2 linked regions of the Homo sapiens genome follow. The protein of the gene in region 1 purifies or fractionates together with the protein of each later gene. This does not show direct contact. Each region holds a gene or a part of one and is shown on either strand. Other genes may lie near its edges.

What was found.
Region 2: the proteins of TMEM59 (region 1) and B3GNT2 purify together in Homo sapiens (affinity purification with mass spectrometry; 2 studies listed by BioGRID and IntAct, with this or other methods). This does not show direct contact.

Annotation. Positions count from the first base shown.
Region 1 is NC_000001.11:54,050,205-54,057,968, forward strand, and holds the start of TMEM59 (transmembrane protein 59 isoform 2 precursor), read right to left. Parts: upstream 3,001-7,764; 5' UTR 2,985-3,000; coding exon 2,796-2,984; intron 1-2,795. Other genes in the region: TCEANC2 (transcription elongation factor A N-terminal and central domain-containing protein 2), read left to right, coding at 4,219-4,320.
Region 2 is NC_000002.12:62,220,076-62,225,231, forward strand, and holds the end of B3GNT2 (N-acetyllactosaminide beta-1,3-N-acetylglucosaminyltransferase 2), read left to right. Parts: intron 1-2,136; 5' UTR 2,137-2,145; coding exon 2,146-3,339; 3' UTR 3,340-4,656; downstream 4,657-5,156. UniProt on the Homo sapiens protein: Beta-1,3-N-acetylglucosaminyltransferase involved in the synthesis of poly-N-acetyllactosamine. Catalyzes the initiation and elongation of poly-N-acetyllactosamine chains. Shows a marked preference for Gal(beta1-4)Glc(NAc)-based acceptors.

The DNA of each region.
Region 1 (7,764 bases):
AACCTCCACCGCCCGGGTTCCAGCGGTTCTCCTGACTCAGCCTCCTGAGTAGCTGGGATCACAAGCGTGCGCCATGTTCGGCTAATTTTTGTATTTTTAGTAGAGATGGGGTTTCACCATGTTGGTCAGGCTGATCTTGAACTCCTGACCACCCAGGATCCACTCGCCTCGGCCTCCCAAACTGCTGGAATTACAGGCGTGAGCCACCGCGCCCAGCCTAAAACGAGATTTCTATCTCGTTTTTCAAACGCTATGTGAGTTTGAAAATTCATCTAATTTCTTACAATACACAGTGCTTTTTCCTGGAGCACAAAGCACAGAGGAGAGCCAATAGAAATCAGTGACATAATTAAATATGTTTCTTTTTTTTTTTTTTGATGCAGAGTTTCCCTCTTGTCGCCCAGGCTGGAGTGCGGTGGCGCGGGCTCACTGCAACCTCTGTCTCCCGGGTTCAGGCGCTTCTCCTGCCTCAGCCTCCTGAGTAGCTGGGATTACAGGCGCCCGCCACCACGACTGGCTAAATTTTTTTGTATTTTTAGTAGAGACAGGGTTTCACCATGTTGGCCAGGCTGGTCTTGAACTCCTGACCTGAGGTGATCCACCCGCCTCAGCTTCCCAAAGTGCTGGGATTACAGGAGTGAGCCACCGCGCCCGGCATTTTTTTATTTTTATTTTTTTGAGACACGGTCTCATTCTCAGACTGGCGTGCACTGGCGACATTTCGGCTCACTGCGACCTGCGCCTCCCAGGCTCAAGCAAGCCTCCCACCGAGTAGCTGGGACTACAGGTGCTCGTCTCCATGCCTGGCTAGTTTTTTTGTTTTTCTTTTTTCCAGAGACGGGGTCTTGCCATGTTGTCCAGGCTGGTCTCAATCTCCTGAGCTGAGGTGATCCACCCACCTCGGCCTCCCAAAGTGCTGGGATTACAAGCGTGAGCCATCGCACCCGGCCGAATATGTTTAATGCAAGTTTATTAATAGGAGGCAGCATAGTGTAGCCAGTTTTAAGCTGAATTCCTGCTCCACTATTTCTTGGGTATGTGACCTTAGGCAAGTCACTTAACCTTTCAGAGCCTCAATTTCCTTAATTTTAAAACCCTACTTTACAGGGTTGTTGTGAGAATTAGGGATAATGGTATGATAAATCTCCCATCACTCTGGCTAACAGTGGAGTCTATATAAATTTCAAGTCCAGGACCTATAGGGAGCCAGATGATTTGGAGTTCTTTGTGAGAAAAGCTTTAATAAATAAGTAAAAATAGTTTATAGATATAACACCAATTGTTAGAAAATAGTGGACATTATTAAAGTACCTACAACTTCCAGGAAGGTATCCTTTCAAATTATTTGATTATTTTCCCAACATTCTGGTTTATACCACAAAATTGCCGAGAAAATCCCAAAAAAGGAAACAAACCCTAGAACAATAGAAAGTAAGTCTCAACCCAATTCCAGGCCAAATCAATATTAATGAGCTTCTTCATACAATCCTCTTAATGATGAGAAGTTTACAAGAGGTGGAGAAAAATAACGTGGTTAGAAGCAGTATTCATTGATTTAAGTCTGAAGTTAAAACTTCTCACTTCTTTCTCGATTGTTACATAAATCTCTGGAAAAATTTAGTACAGTCCCTTCTCCCACACTTTTTTTTGAAAATTGATAATCTCCATGCAGTTTAAAATCCAGCCGTAACAAAATCTGAGAAGTGCCGGCACTTAGAACTTTTCATTTCAAAGACCTGAAAATACTCGCCAATATGGAACATCCTAAGCTTCACTGGAACTGTCTCCGTAGCCACTCCAGTTTTAGAGAGCAAGGAGGTCCAGCCACAATGGTTAAGCAAATAGCATAGAGGAGATGAAGGAAAAACGAAGAGGAAACCACCAGCAACATCAACAAAAGCTCTCATAAAACAACGTGGGGGAGGGCATATACTCAAATCATACATGGGAAAGGTGTGGTGGGAATCATCAAGCAATTTAGAATGTTGAGTAAACAGAGTTCTTAGGCTGAAAAACCAACGTGAAGAGGGTTAGGTATGTAATTAAAAGAAAGGGGGGAAGCATAGAGAGGAGGGCCATTCCTCTCTGTAAGCTGCGAACCCCCTCCTGTCCACAGTCTCATTTCTTCACCCACTCCACGAATTCCCCGTTTTCTGCACTGAGTGGTCAGTTTCTGGTAGGCAGACACCTAATTGCCTCTTCTCTAACCCAGTCCCTCTTGGCAGCGTCTTGGACACAGTAACTCAACATAGGCAGACAGCATTCCTGAGCGTCTCGCTACTCCCTGAGCTGCCTTCGTGACGCTTTTTATACCACAGTGGAATCGTCTACTTGTCTGACTCCCCGAAGACTGCGCTCCTGGCCCCGAGAGGCGCTTAGTAAACAAGGGTTATCAATCAATCATTTGTGGACTCGCGTATCTGCGCCTCCCTTTCTACAATCCCCCCTTACGCTCCCTTAGGTGAGGACCCCGCATTAATCATCCATATCCTCCCCTATCCTCCTCCGAGTGCTCGACTCCCCTGCAGCCCGGCAAGCTCCCAGAGGAAAGGGATCGCGTCTTTCTCATCTTTGTGTCCCCCAGCCTATCACAGGGTAGTGCAGGACAAACTTCCGGTAATGACAGCAGAAATGGGGTGCAGGCAGGATTAGGGAGGAAAACAGGAGCTACACAGATGGGAGACAGCGATTGAAGGGCCGATTTAACAGCCAGGTTGCCAGAGCCGACATACGTGTGGGGAGCCGAGAAATGGGCTGCAAGGGAAGGGTCGCAGCCCGCTCCGGACGGGCCCTACCTTAGGGTAGGTGTGCAAGGGGTAGGTCAACTGACAGGCCCGGTGGCAAGACGCCGTATCACCCAAGACCGAGTCAAATGCTTCAGCCGAAGCGGTCCCCGAACCTCCGGCCAAGGCCATGGTCAGCAGCAGCAGCGGCGGGAGCCCCAGTTGGGTCCTCACCCAGAGGCTCCCCTTCGGCGCCGCCATCTTGTTCCCCTCTGTCACAGCAGCTCAGCTTGTTGCTGTTTTCTCGGAAGGGTTTCCTCCTCCTCCTGGGGCCAGCCCCCTTCTCCGCCCCACCGACCGTTGCTTCCGCCTCCGCTGTCACTTCAGCTCCGCCCTCACCCGCCAGAAACTGCCGCCTCCTGCCTCACCTCTGGGACTACGAACTTCTTCTCCTAGGCTGGCGTGAGGAGGGGAATTCAACCATCGCAAGCGTTAGCGCGAAGCGGGGCCTCCTGACTTCTTCCCTTCGCGGGGCAGGCTGGGGCATGTAGTTCTCCGTAGGCGGGAGGCGCACGGTGCTGTCGGGAAAGTTGGTCTCGGAAAACTACAGCCGCCCTCAGCGCGCCTTCCGCCCGCATTTCTTCGCAGTGCATTCTGGGGAATGTGGTTCGCTGTGGCCCAGAGGCGCGAGGGCCGGCGGAGTTTCTTCAGAGGAACTACCGCCCTGGGAGGAAGCGTCTGTTTAGTTTCAACACAGACGACTGGGCTTGGGAGCCTACGAGGTTGCAGTCTGGAGGGCGCCAACAGCAGCTACCAGGGCTGCTTTTCCTGGTGGGTCTCACGTCAGACCGTTGTTGGGTGCCCCTACCCGGGCTCCTGAGTGCTGGGAACGAGGAGGATGGGGTTTCTCCTTGTTCGGGGATCCAGAGATTACAGCCGTGGGTAGGGTCCTCTGACCACCGAGCAGTTTGTTCTAGGGGATGCTGCGTATTGTGAGACCCTCTGCTGAGTTCTGGAGGTGGTTGTCGGTTGCTGATTACCAGGGCAACCCTTGGGATTATGGCTGTGGTGAGGTGGTTGTTAAGAGGGCGTCACTGAGCCTAATGTAATCCTAACCCTTTCACAGCCCAATCTTATTTGGAAGAGGGCTTAGGTGCACGCTCTAGCGGGGATTCCAATATTGGGCCAATTCCCCCAATGTTGGAATCCTCGCTAGAGCGTGCACTTCTGGAAGCTAGGAACCTCCTAACTCAGGACGTAGACTGATGATTGATTACAGTTTCAATTCTTCGGAAGATCTTTCTTTTAAAGAGAAAATCTTACTTCCTGTCAATTCCACTCGAGGCCCCATAATTCATGAATTCTTCCAGAGAACTCAATTGTGTTACTTTGGGGAAAAAATATCATGGCAGTCTTTAGTGGGGTTTTAGAATCTGCCCTCTTTCTTGACCAGAACACGCTGCAAGCACGTCAAGGTAGTCGGAGTCCCCTAACAATGGATAAATTCGTCATTCGAACGCCTAGAATCCAGAATAGCCCTCAGAAGAAAGATTCTGGAGGAAAGGTTTACAAGCAGGCCACGATTGAATCTCTGAAGGTGAGAGGGGATCTGGGGCTAGAGGAAATGTGCAAAGGACTGATAGCAAGGTGGTGCTAGAGGTTCTGTTGTGGAAAGACCTATGAATTATTTCTTGTTATGCCTCCTCCTCAAAGTGTACCTGACCACTCCTCCTTTGTTTCGCCCATAGCTGTACAGACTTACATTTATAAATTTCTGCACACCCCTGCTACACCCTTGTAATTACTCCGGTTTACACCATGTGTGCTAGCTCGTAGGACAAGTCCCCTTCGTTGTTATTCTTTTGCAAAATGTAGTCTGTTAGGAATGTTAAAGTACCAAATATGATTCTATATACCTACCCTGTACAAACTTATTAAGGGGTGGGCTTTGATGCTGTTCTCTCACATCTGTCACACTGCCCAGAACTGTATCAAACAGCTTTACAGCTTCAGCTGAGACTGGGAAAGAGGCTGTTTTTTTGTTGTCGTTGTTGTTGTTTTTGTTTTTCAGACAGGGTCTCACTCTGTCACCCAGACTGCAGTACAGTGGCACGATCTTGACTCACTGCAACCTCCACCTCCCGGCTTCATATGATCCTCCTGCCTCAGCCTCCCAAGTAGCTGGGATTACAGATGCCTGGCTATTTTTTGTTTTTAGTAGAGATGGGGTTTCACCATGTTGGCCAGGCTGGTCTTGAACTCCTGACCTCAAAATGATCCACCCGCCTCTTGTCTCCCAAAGTGCTGAGATTACAGGCATGAGCCACTGTGCCCAGCTGGAAAGAGGCTGTTTTAATGAGCTCTTGCTACATTGAAGTCAGTCTGATGTCTGCAAGCAAGATGCAAAGAGTAGATACAATGTATCAATCAACATAGTTACCCAATAAATGCTAAAGTAATTATTTTACTAAAACAAAACAAAACAACTTGTACTTAGTCCCCTTTGTCATCCTGAACCTTGCCTCTTAAATTTCTGACTTTTTCATTTTCTTTTACCAATTCTTCTTCCTCCACTAGGTTCCTAATGTTTGTTCTCCTCAGAGTTCTGTCACATTTTATGTATTTGGCCAGGATGACATTATCCATTCTTTAGGCTTTCTGTGCTAAAACTGCCAAACCTGCACCTCCAGCCTAGGTTTCAGAAGGTGGGAGGAGGATCTGGGGCTAGAGAAAATGTGCAAAGGATTGTAAGAGCAAGGCAGCATTCTGAGTACTTGACATATACTCAATTGGACTCCTTTTCTGGATGTCCCACAGGCTTAGGAGACCCATATTGGAAAGCAGTGAAGGAGAGTATAAACAGGCCTTACTGGTAACTGGGTGATCTTTAGTAGCAAGTCAGTCCCTTCTCTAAGACCTCAGTTTCCTCATCTATAAAACGTGGAGATTGAACTATATCAGTGTTTCTTCAAGGGGTGCTATTGTTGTATGGGGCAAGATAATTCTTCATTATTTGGAGCTGCTGGTGGTTTACAGGATACTTAGCATCCCTGGCTCTCAGGCACTTAATGCCAATGGCACCTCCCATTCTGATAACTGAAAATGCCTTCTCATTTTTCCAGACAGCACTTGATTGAGCCCTACCAAACTCTAGATGATCTTTAAAGTCTGTCCTAGTCTTGCAGTTCTGTGACTGCATAGAACACATTCAAGGTTTTCAACTGTCTCTACCTTGTCAGAATATTCATGGATAATTGTACATAGCAATGATTCTCAATGAGGGATCATGTCAGACTCTCTCCAGGAAAAAGGTGGGAAGGAATAGTTGAACTACATATACACTCACCTACACCTACAAACACCCATATTCTTTTCTTTTCTTTTCTTTTCTTTTTTTTTGAGACGGAGTTTTGCACTGTCGCCCCGGCTGGAGGGCAATGGTGGGATCTTGGCTCACTGCAACCTCTGCCTCCCTGCAACCTCTGCCTCCCTGGTTCATGCGAGTCTCCTGCCTCAGCCTCCCGAGTGGTGGGGATTACAGGTGCCCGCCACCACGCCTGGCTAATTTTTTGTATTTTTAGTAGAGATGGGGTTTCACTATGTTGGCCAGGCTGGTCTCGAACTCCTGACCTCATGATCTGCCCACCTCGGCCTCCCAAAGTGCTGGGATTACAGGCGTGAGCCACGGCACCTGGCCCAAACACCCATATTCTAATATACCTCCTCCTACCGCTCTCCCCTCTGGGTTCCTGCTCGTGCCCTAGTTGAAAATCACTATGTGTGATGATGAAAATAAATGATGTGAAAATTATGGAATAAGAATAAAACAACAGGCTGGACTCAGTGGCTCATGCCTGTAATCCTAGCACATTGGGAGGCCAAGGCAGATGGATCACCTGAGCCCAGGAGTCCGAGATCAGCCTGGGCAGCTTGGCAAAACCCCATCTCTACAAAAAATACAAAAGTTAGCTGGGTATGGTGGGGAGCGCCTGTAGTCACAGCTACTTGGGAGGCTGAGCTGGGAGGATTGCTTGAACCTGGGAGCTGGAGGTTGCAGTGAGCCAGGATGGTACCACTGCACTGCAACCTGGGTGACAAAGTGAGACACCATTTAAAAAAAAAAAAAGAATAAAACAAAAGGCATATTTAATAACATTCCCCTTAAATGCATTAGCTTTTCTTCCAAACCTCTTCCTTGTTCTCCTGTATTAATGTATATCCGTATACCAAGTAACTGGGACTAGAAATCTAGGAACCATCCTTAACTCTTTTTTCTCATATCCAATTTTCTTTTTTCTTTGTTTTTTTTTTTTTTTTAGGGTCTCGCTCTGTCACCCAGGCTGGAATGCAGTGATGTGATCATGGGACTATGATCACATCATAGCTGGGACTATAGGCACATGCCACCACACCTGGCTAATTTTTTTTTTTTTTTTTTTTTTTTGTAGAGACAGGATTTCATCATGTTGTCCAGTCTGGTCTTGAACTTCTGGGCTCAAGCTATCTGCCCTCCTTGGCCTCCTGAAGTGCTGGGATTACAGGCATGAGCCACTACGCCTGGCCCCAATTTTTAGTTTTACTTCCTAAAAATCCTTCTTGCCCATACTCACTTGATTGTCTTCCACTTTAAGTTCAGAATCATACTTCTCATCTAGAGCAGTGCTATGGTCTGTTGACTTGTCTCCCTGCCTTTGACATCCCGCATTCACCTCCCTTCCACTCTTACACCAGAGAAATATGTCTCAAATAGAAAAGAAAATCTACTCAGGTCACTTTCCTGCCTAATCCTTCAATAATTTCTCATTACCCATCAATAAAGATCACAGTTTTTTACATGACACCCAAGGCCTTCCATGACCTGGCGCCTGCCTGCCTCATCCCCTGCTAGTCTTTTTATTTATGCCTCATCCAATGTCAACCATTCACAATTCCCCAAAGATGTTGTGCTCTTTCCTTCCTCTGTGCCTTTGCATATACTGTCCTGTTTGCCTGGAATTCCCTTACTATCTTGTCTTGGAGGCAATATAATGCAATAATTAAG
Region 2 (5,156 bases), on another chromosome or scaffold:
TTACATTTTAGCAGAATTCAGGCCCCTCTCAATCCTAATCTTGTGACCTTTCATTAGCCTCAGCCCCCTGAACAAGGAAGGGATCAGTTTTATGGAGGGACTGTTACCATCTTTGCTTCGAAGTTAAACTGTAAACTAAATTTCTCCCGTGGTTAGCTTGGCCTATGCCCAGGAATGAGTGGAGACAGCTAGCCTGTGAGGGTAGACGCAAGATGGAGTCAGCCATGCTAGATTTCTTACTGTCCATAATCTTTGCAAAGGTGGTTTCAGCAGTAGTAAATACAAGCAACCAGATAAAGGTCTACTAGGCAGATCTTTACAGACACACAATAGCTTGTGAATTCCTGTTGATCTCATCTGGGCTCTCTAATATGTAATAGTTTTACAGCATTCTCAGCATGACAAATATTTTTCTACTTTACCGTTTGTTAGAATCCAGTGAACTTAAAAATCCTCTCCTTTCAAAAAGCAAATACTAGATTAAAATAGTTGCAAAGCTTTCTTTTAGGGATTGGAGAAGTGTAGCTACCTTTTGGCATGGTACAGACTTGGAATCTGTTTGCCTTGGCTGGTATTCCAGTCTGCCCTTCTTTAAATGTGTACCTCCTCAGGTATAAAATGGGAATGAGTAATAGTACCTAAGGATAAATTCCCAGTTGAATTAACCTGATAAGAAAATCTTCAGCTCTTTATAGAACATTGCCATCCCACTTTTTTGGGCTATCTTTTAATGTCACCTTGGTTTAAATGTTCATTCTTGTATAGGTCATCCATGTCAATAGTGTTAGAACCTTGGATATCCCCAGCAAACCATCTCATTACTCATTCTTTATTCTTCCATTGCCCACAGCCTGAAATCTTTTGATATTTCACTAAAATATCATTTGTATTTCCCTTTTTGCTACAAACAATAGAGATCTTAAATATACACTTCAGGTTTGACATATGCATACATCCGTGGAGCCTTCATCAGGATCAAGACCTACATGGTACATTTCTGTACCCCAGGAAGTTCCTTCCTATCCTTCTCTAAGCCCACCACCTCCATCACTTTCAGATTTCTAGAACCTAAATTCATTTTGCCTGTTCTTGAAGTTAATATAAATGAAAATTTGGGTCTGGCCTTCATTCACAATGTAATGTTGTAATGTTTCATCCACAATAGTTTCCCTTTCTATTGCCGAGGGGATATACCATTGTATGCAGATGCCACAGTTTGATCATCTGTTCTGTTGATATTGGGCTGTTGCCAGTTCTTGGCTATTGGGATAAAGCTGTCCTGAGTCTGCTTTCATTTTCTCTGTCTGAGATGCTCTGTGGTTCCTGTCTCCTGCTTCCTAGCCCTGCAACCTTGGGCAAGTGTCTTAATCTCTCTGCTTTGGTTTCCTTATCTGTAAAATGGTAGGTTGGAAAATAACTCAGGGTTGGGACTAACATTAAAAAAAAGAGAGAGAGATAGGGTCAGACATGCCTATAATCCCAGCACTTTGGGAGGCTGAGGTGGGAGGATCACCTTAGGTTGGGAGTTTGAGCCCAGCCTGAGCAACGTAACCAGTCCCTGTTTCTACATTTTAAAATCTCAAAGTTTTTCAAATGAAATAGAAGAGAACTTGAGAGTGAATGACATGGAACTGCACACAATGCGTCACACATGTAAATAGAGTTTTGTGTATGTATGTGTATACTAAACACAGTATAAAAATGTATTTGTTATAATTTAGGCAAATCGGTTTGCCAAGCACTGTATGTGCCATTGTAAGCAAGGAAGTTGAACTCTCCTGAGGTTATTTAGTAATAGGTATTTCTAGCTTCAGCATGTCTCAAACAGTCACTTACATAGTGCTTGCTGTGAGCCACGCGCTATTTTAAAAGCTTTCCATATAACATCATATACTCACAACCATCCTTTGAAGTGGGCTTGATTCCCATTTTATATATGGAGAAGTTGAGACAGGGACTATCCCACTTGCCCATGATCACAAAGCTAGAAAGGAAGGGCCAAGATTTGAACCTAGGCAGTGCAAGTGTAGAGTCTTTGCTGTAAACCACTATTCCTGGGGAGACAGGTAAAATAAATTGTATGTGCAAATGCAAATTGATAAGTAATTGATACAATACTCCACCCCTTTATTCCAGATATGAGAAATGAGTGTTGGACGTCGAAGAATAAAGTTGTTGGGTATCCTGATGATGGCAAATGTCTTCATTTATTTTATTATGGAAGTCTCCAAAAGCAGTAGCCAAGAAAAAAATGGAAAAGGGGAAGTAATAATACCCAAAGAGAAGTTCTGGAAGATATCTACCCCTCCCGAGGCATACTGGAACCGAGAGCAAGAGAAGCTGAACCGGCAGTACAACCCCATCCTGAGCATGCTGACCAACCAGACGGGGGAGGCGGGCAGGCTCTCCAATATAAGCCATCTGAACTACTGCGAACCTGACCTGAGGGTCACGTCGGTGGTTACGGGTTTTAACAACTTGCCGGACAGATTTAAAGACTTTCTGCTGTATTTGAGATGCCGCAATTATTCACTGCTTATAGATCAGCCGGATAAGTGTGCAAAGAAACCTTTCTTGTTGCTGGCGATTAAGTCCCTCACTCCACATTTTGCCAGAAGGCAAGCAATCCGGGAATCCTGGGGCCAAGAAAGCAACGCAGGGAACCAAACGGTGGTGCGAGTCTTCCTGCTGGGCCAGACACCCCCAGAGGACAACCACCCCGACCTTTCAGATATGCTGAAATTTGAGAGTGAGAAGCACCAAGACATTCTTATGTGGAACTACAGAGACACTTTCTTCAACTTGTCTCTGAAGGAAGTGCTGTTTCTCAGGTGGGTAAGTACTTCCTGCCCAGACACTGAGTTTGTTTTCAAGGGCGATGACGATGTTTTTGTGAACACCCATCACATCCTGAATTACTTGAATAGTTTATCCAAGACCAAAGCCAAAGATCTCTTCATAGGTGATGTGATCCACAATGCTGGACCTCATCGGGATAAGAAGCTGAAGTACTACATCCCAGAAGTTGTTTACTCTGGCCTCTACCCACCCTATGCAGGGGGAGGGGGGTTCCTCTACTCCGGCCACCTGGCCCTGAGGCTGTACCATATCACTGACCAGGTCCATCTCTACCCCATTGATGACGTTTATACTGGAATGTGCCTTCAGAAACTCGGCCTCGTTCCAGAGAAACACAAAGGCTTCAGGACATTTGATATCGAGGAGAAAAACAAAAATAACATCTGCTCCTATGTAGATCTGATGTTAGTACATAGTAGAAAACCTCAAGAGATGATTGATATTTGGTCTCAGTTGCAGAGTGCTCATTTAAAATGCTAAAATAGATACAAACTCAATTTTGCATAGAAAGGTGTATTTTGAATAGTTCCCATGTTGTGTTCTCACATTAGAGTAATTTCTATATTAAACCATGAAAATTGCCTTTATGAGTGATACCCATTTGAGGGCCTCTAAACCCTTCAATTTGGTACTCACGTGAAGAGGGAAAGCGGAAGATGGTAATTTTTTTTTATGGATGATATGGCAGGATGATTGGTTCTGATCTTACCGGCTAGTGGTCATTTTTAAAAAACTTGTACCCTCTTATCTGAAATCCTGTTTCTGGAATTTGGCCATTTTAAGTGATTTTGTTTGCCCTCTTCTATAATATTCCTACTTCCCATAATAATGACTGATTTATTTGTAATTCAGGTATTTATAAACCTATTGGCTACAAAGACTTTGTTAAACATTATCCAGTGGTTTTCGTGAAATGGAATTATGTTTATTTTTATGGGATTTGGGTAAATTTTAAATTGTCTAGAAAACTGAAATTTCAGTTGTCAGTTGTGGAATTCAGTTTTTCAATTGTGGAAATTTCCTGCCACCCCAACAGTATTTTTGTGTGTTAATTAATTTTGCAAAATGAGAATCATGGTGTGACACTCATCTAATTTATCTTGTTGTGATGTTATGGTCATAATAAGGAGAAAGAGGGTTTAATTTTTCTTGTATTTGGTTTCCTGGTGGTATCATAGTGTAATTTTAGTATTTGAAAATCAGTGTGATTCCTTAATGGCCAACTGAAGATTGAATTGCCGCTAACAACCATATCGTGTTAGTGAATTTTCAATATGGACCAGGAAGGCATATGTATTTTGAACTTGAGTGAAAAGGTTGAAGTTACAGACTTTTGCATAGATGGTTTGTCAATTTAAAATTCCAGAATTTATTATTGCCATATTTTCACATGCTGCTTATACAAGATTATTATTGAGTAGTAACTGCTTCCCTGTCTATGTAGAAGTGCCTGTGTTTTTATTTATTGTTCAGATCAAAGACCAAAACATTTTCTTAAATATATTTTATGTAATATTTTATTTGTATACAGTGTTGTTGATGAAATATTTAACTAGAGCATGATATTTTAAATGTTAAGGTGTAACATATGTTAAATAAAACTGTTATTTTTGAATTTTAAAATTTGTTTTTTGGGGGTATGAACTACTAGAGTTTAAAATTCTGCCAAACTATTACTTATATGTACTATTGTGTAACATACTTTCTTGAAATATTTTTGTTTATAGAATTGAAGGTTCTTATCAGATGGGATACTGGGGACTATAAACAATGGAAATAAAGCCACTGTATTTTTAATTTTTTGTGTAATGTGTAATCTATAATCCTTTTGTTTCCCATATTTGAGAACATTTTTCCCTGAAAGAGGCCAGTTTCCTCCCCAGAAACCATTACAGTAGTGTTGAACTATCACTGTCTCTCAGTGCGTCATCCATCTTTGCATTTAAAATCCCCAAAGTGCTTTCCCATTTAAAGTCTTTAAAGAAAAGTGAGAATATTTATTTATGCTTCCATTTTCAGTGAGTATAAATAATTTAATTAGGGAGTGGTGTGGCATTGTAAAGATTGTGTTATCCTAAGCCATTTCTATTTTGGAGTTTGTAGCCACAAAGATGAAATATAGAATCAGCCTTGACTACTCAATTTCCTTTCATAGACCCATGTTGAGAAGACACTACTAACGTCCAGTGGGAAACAAGTAGACAATTGATGAAGCTCAAAAAACAGAAGGGTTAGTGTTGTAAGAGCAAACAGTCTAATCCTGTTTGGAATGTGGAAGCCATTTCTGAGCAAGTATG